2 separate regions of the Homo sapiens genome follow, and region 1 is linked to region 2. Evidence: fine-mapped expression QTL. A gene starts in region 2. The other region holds a variant in brackets. All regions are shown on one strand. Distances are between the middles of the regions.

Region 1 (3,000 bases), 69 kb after region 2:
TAGGCCAGGTGCAGTGGCTCACACCTGTAATCCCAGCACTTTGGGAAGCCAAGGCGGGCGGATCACCTGAGGTCAGGAGTTCGAGACCAGCCTGGCCAACATGGTGAAACCCCGTCTCTACTAAAAAGACACAAATTAGCCGGGTGTGGTGGTGGGCGCCTATAATACCAGCTACTCGGGAGGCTGAGGCAGGAGAATCGTGTGAACCCAGGAGACAGAGGTTGCAGTGAGCCGAGATCGTGCCACTGCACTCCAGCCTCGGCGACAGAGTGAGACTCTGTCTAAAAAAAAAAAAAAAGACAAGATGGCAATGCCCATCAATCCTTGTTAAATTCACGGGCACAATTCCCACAAAAAACCAGATGGACCCTGGCAGATGCCATGGACAGCCATAAACTCAGGGGAGCAGCAGCCACACAGCAGCGGCTGAGCCAACTTGCTGTCTTCCCTGGAGTGAGCCACGCAGCGCTGGCCCACAGTAGGTGGAGACGGACCTAGTGAGCATGTTCGTCCCAGCCTGGCTCAGCAGGGCTGGAAGCTGGCATTCACCTGGAGCCCGCTCAGTCTGCAGTCCCTGCCCCGCCCCAGAGTGTGTTAACGCTCCTGCCGTCACCACAATTCTAGTGCTTGAAGAGCCCAAGTATCAGTTGAGATATTATTGGTTGTAAGTCATTGGAAACTCAACTGAAATGGGCTGGAAAGACAAATGGATCACATCACTAGATGATTTGGGGAGCACCCGCAGGAGCAGCTGACTCGGGGGCCGGGCTCCCTCTCCGAAGTTCCCTGTGCTCCGCCCACCGCTGTGTTGGTTTCAGCCCTAGGCAACGGCCACTGTCCTATCATCTGCACCGCCTGCGACTCACACCCCTGGAAGTTAGGAGAGTCTCCCCTCCACCAACCGTCAAACCAAAGTCCCCAGTTGCCAAAGACCAGCTCAGCCCAGGTCACGCACCCTCTGCAGCTCAGCCCGTGTGACTGAGAAGTCCCAGGAGAAGGAAGGGGAAGTGGGTGTCTCCAGGCATCACGAAGCCTGCTCTGCGGGGCTACGTGTGTAGACACAGGCTGGTGGAACGCCTTGCCGGAGAGCAGGGGTGGTTCCAGGGAGGTTCCCAGGTCCCAGCTCCACTCTTGGCTGGAGGAAAGCCTAGGAAGATGCCCTCCCGTCTGCAGGATGGTGCGCGTGACTCAGCAGGGACAGAGCTGCCTTTCCGGGTGCCTGGTCCCACAGGGGAAGCCCCAGAGTCTCCCCGGGGAAGGGACTGCAGTGAGGTGCCAGTAAAGCTCAGACCCCTTGGGAAGCAGTGAGCCTTCCCAGCAGGGTGAGCGTGCCCTCTGCATCACACAGGGAACTCCCCCCAGGAGGTCCTGAGCCTGCAGGAGGGGACGGCGGGCCCTGGGTTCTGCCTGACCCGGACTCGGGGGTGGGTGGATGCCCCTGGAAGGGTGGCCTGCAGAGCCCCCAGTGACCGGGACTCTGGGGACCGCAGGGGCTGGGGCTGAGCTGCAGCCAAGAGACCTG[C/T]TGCGGAAGGGGGGACCCCTTGCAGACAGCCCATCACTGCCCTGTTCCTGCCGCCAGGTGTGGCATCGGTGTTGCTCCCGGGTCCGGGCAGTGGTGGCCGCTGCACCAGTTCCATCACTGGGGGCTCTCGGGGTTGGGTGCTGGGATAAAGGCAGGCCCCAAGCTTCTGGGATCATGGGTCTGGAGTTGTCCCTGGAAAATAGAGCTGGACCCCTTTTGTGCCCTGAGGGCGGGTGACCACACATGGTCACAGGGCAGGAGGGTGGATTGCAAGCTGAAGTGGGTTGGAGAGACCCTGGAGGGGTTGGAAGTCCCACGCGGGAGACTCAGCTGAGCCTCCTCTGCACCCTGCCTGCAGCTGCTTCCCCTGCAGTGCCCACCCCCAGAGCCCTGCCAAGTCCCAATGGAGCCCCACAATCATCCCCCAACGTTACTCACCTCAGGCGGCCAGAGTCTCCCCTCCATACTCGAAGCTGCCGGGGTCTCCCTGCTGCAGACTCTCCCTAGCAGGGACCCAGACAGACGGACGCTGGTGGCTGGACAGATGGGCTCCCGGGTCTAGGTTGCCCAGCCCAGCCCAGCCCCTCTGTCTCCAGCGTGGGGTCAGACTCCGGGAAGGATGCTGTGGCCTCCATCCTGTGGTCGGCCTGTCCTTCCAGGCTCAATCAGACGTCACCCCGCAGCCCTCCTGAGTCGCCCGGCCCTGCCGTGCCCTCCCCGAGGGGCTAACGAGGCCTTTGCTCTGGCTCTGGCATCCGCCCATCGGCCCAGTGCCAAGTGGAGTCCACATGGTGCCCGCCCAGCACCGGGTGATGGTGACGGTGACGGTGGTGACTGTGCGGGGCCGTCTGGCCTGTGGAAACCTGATCCTACCCCTGGCCCCGGGGCCGGCTAAGTCCCCAAAAGCCCAAAGCCGGGGTTCTAGTGCTGCTTGGGCCTGGGCTGCCCTCTCACGGAAGCTCTGTGGGCACCTCCTCTGTCAGGCGGCCGCCTGGGCCGGATCTGGACCCCAGAGCTGTGTCATTGCGTATTTGCCAGACCATTCATGTCCCAAGCAAACTGGACAACACCGTCTTTGCCATCTCCCCTGCAGACAGCCTGCAGCAGGCTGGGGTTGGGTGAGGAGGACCCTCCAGCAGGACAGGCCGCCCCCACAAACCGAGCCTGATCACCCTGACCCTGTTTCACCCTGGACAGCCGAGGCCTCCCCCAGGGCTGGCTTGGCATAAAGAAGCCCCCATGCCAGCCCTGCCGGGCAGAACCCCATCTGTCCAGGCTGCACTGGGCGCTGCCACCCTCCTCACCCTGCCTGGCTGGCCATGTCCCAGCCCCATTCCAGCACCAAGCCTTCCTGAGCCGACAGCGCCACATGGCTGCCACCCAGAGGCCACTCAGGGAGTGACAGGCCGCTGGCCAGCCGGGTGGACCATCCACCCCACCGCCTCTGCCGGCTTCTCCTCACTCACCTGTTCACACAC
Region 2 (2,500 bases):
AGGATGGGTGGAGCGGCCACTGGTCCAGGAAGGCAGCGGGGCTCCCAGGGCGTCCGCAAGGGGCCTCTCAGACGCTTTGAGGAGCTCCGGGATGGGAGCCGGGATGTTTTTGTGAAACCAGAGAAGGTAGTGGAAGGTCAGGGCACCGGGGCGGGATCAGGGGCCACAGGCTGTTGACAAAGCCCTATCCCTGCGCCCTCACCCCGTGGGGGCGGGGCAGGCGTGGGTGCACCCAGACCCCCCAACCCTGATGTCCCCAATACCAAGGGCAGAGAGCAGCCCTGGCCGGTCCTTGGAGGATGCGGGCGCCGAGGGGGCCGGGGTCAGTCGGTTCAGAGTCGGAGCATAAGCCCGGTGGCCGAGTCGGCCGGGTGGTGGGGCGCCGGGGGGGCCGGAGCCGGGCAGGGCAGTGACCCGCTTGCCGGGGTCAAAGTCGCCAGTGTGGGCCGCGGAAGAGGAGCGGCCAGGCGGGGCGCAGACACCCCTCACCCCATCCTGGGCCGCGCCGGTGCCACCGGGCAGTCCTCGGGGCAGGAGCCCACCGAGGGGAGACAGCGCTGGTGAGACCCCGCGCCTCGGGGACGCGTCCGCGGCGCTTTGTGCGCTCCCCAGGGCGGCGGGGCCCGGGGCCCTGAGTGGGGAGTGTGGCCGCTGCAGTGTGGCCGCCGCAGGGCGCCAGGCGGCCAGCGACACCCCCGCCCCCAGCCGCGCCCCCCAGGACCAGAGAACGGGGGAGGGGCTGAGACCCCTGGACCTGCCCGACGGTGCAGGACCGGGTGGTGTCCGAGCCGGGGTTGGGAACGGGGGTGTCTGACGGGACTGAGGAGCGCACCAGCCCGGACCCCGGAGACCGCCCGGCCGGCTCCCCGCTCCCCGCGCCCCCGGCCCCGCCGCGCCCGCCCCGCGGTCTCTGTCCCCACCGGGTCGACTCCCCAACGTCCCCTCGGGGCCGCGGCCCAGGTGCTCACCGCGCGGCGCTGCTCGGGGGTCGGCTTGGCTCCCCGCCGTCCTCTGGGCGCGCTCGGGTCGGGCGCCGGTGACCGCTCGTCTTCGCGGCGCTGCCAGATCGGGGTCGGTGCAAACTTTCCGGCGGCGACGCAGGGCGAGGGCGGCGGCGGAGGGCGGGCTCGGGGGCGGCCCCGCGGGGGTGGGAGCGGCAGCCGAGGGTCCCCGCCCGCCCTCCGCGCAGCCTCCCGGCGAGCTTCGGTCCTGCCCACCCTGCGCAGGGAGCGCCTCGTACCCCGGCCATACGCAGACTCGGCGCGCTGAATTCCACCCCGCGGACCCGCGCCCCACAGACCTTTGTCCCACGGGTCCTGGTTCCGCAGACCCTAATCCTGCAGACCCCTGAGCCCGCGGACCCTGGCCCAGCAGGTGGTGGTCGCGGTGGGTCCCAGCTCCGGGAGGGGACGCCCTGGGACGCGGAGGGGCGCGCGGGCGTGGGGGCCGTGGCTCAGCCCCCCTTCCTCTCGCTCCCTCCGCCTCCCTGGGCGCCCCCTCGCCCCCTTCCTCTCGCGTCCCCGGGTTCTCGCCCCTTCTTTCCTGATGCCTGCCTGATTTTCTGGAAAGACCGACACCCCCAGTCGCCCCCACCGCGGCTCCCGGTTCCTTCCCCTGCAGAGCAGACGGGGGCTGGAGTAGGGGCCAACATGGGTGACATGGGTGGACCGGCAGGGCGGTCCCTGGGGTGCCCTTTAACTCTTTCTGTGCCACATCCCCGGTCTCTGGCCAGTCCTGTCGCGCTAAGGCCCCTCCAGCAGCGCTGACCCTGGTCCCCCACCTGCTGGTCCTGCGGCCGCGGGGCGCTCTCTCCTCCGTCCCACCCGCTCCTTCCACACCACCTCCTTTCCTGGGAGTGGAGAAGCCCCAGCCAGAACCCCTGCCTTCCCCAAGAGGCACGCTCAGAGGGACATTCTCCCCTTCCTCACTCCCCCTAGAGCCACATCACACCTGGCTTTGGGGCCCTAGAACCTCAGCCCGCGCCCCTCCCCTTCCACCCCCAGCCATCCCTGCTCTGTGCCCAGTGATCTTGGGGTCACCACAACCCCATGGCGCCTTGAGGCCTCACCTTTCCTGGCCTCTCAGCATCCTGGGACACTGATGGTCATGCCTTCCTTCTAGAAAGTTCTCTCCGAGGCTGTGGCTTCCAGGATGAGCACTCTCCTCCTCCCACTTCCTCCCCTTCTCCTTCCCCCTCCTCCCTTCTCCCTGGAGAGGTCTTCCTCCAAGTCCCAGTCTTCTTCCCCACCCAGAGCCCCTCCCGCTGACACTTGTCTGCAGTGCCTGTCTCCGCTCCCGCTAGGAAGCCTCCCCTCCGGCATCTCCAATCCATCTCTGGGTCCTGCTCCACCTGCATTTCCCTAGACCTGTCCTGGCCACCCTCACCCTGGGACACCTCCTGCCCGTGGAGAGCTCCTCTGATAGGTGCCGTCCTTGGTCTTGGGGGTCCTTTCTCCCTAATTCTACTTCTGTTTTGGGGGCGTGGGAACCCAGGGTCTTA

Which allele goes with the higher level. Positions count from the first base shown, and alleles are read on the strand shown. Sizes are in standard deviations (SD) of each study's normalised expression.
In carriers of allele T in region 1, the expression in unexposed skin of the gene that starts at base 1,068 in region 2 tends to be lower than with C alone (moderate effect, 0.41 SD a copy in GTEx).

What was found. PIP is the estimated chance that this variant, and not a neighbour inherited with it, causes the effect.
Region 1: its variant is the best candidate, but not a certain one, in a credible set for the expression of GCGR in unexposed skin (GTEx, PIP 0.68).

The regions. Positions count from the first base shown.
Region 1 is chr17:81,733,811-81,736,810 of GRCh38, reverse strand. It overlaps LOC105371929 (a long non-coding RNA gene), which reads right to left. Exons shown (of 3, transcript XR_935049.2): 1 at 2,989-3,000; 2 at 956-2,025. Among named protein-coding and RNA genes, the nearest start is that of SLC25A10, 23 kb to the right of the region's middle. The variant C/T (reference allele first, on the strand shown) is at 1,523.
Region 2 is chr17:81,802,718-81,805,217 of GRCh38, reverse strand. It overlaps GCGR (glucagon receptor), which reads right to left and starts at 1,068. Exons shown (of 14, transcript NM_000160.5): 1 at 969-1,068. It overlaps LOC105376789 (a long non-coding RNA gene), which reads left to right and starts at 473. Exons shown (of 4, transcript XR_001753046.3): 1 at 473-560. RefSeq lists an enhancer at 1,100-1,599.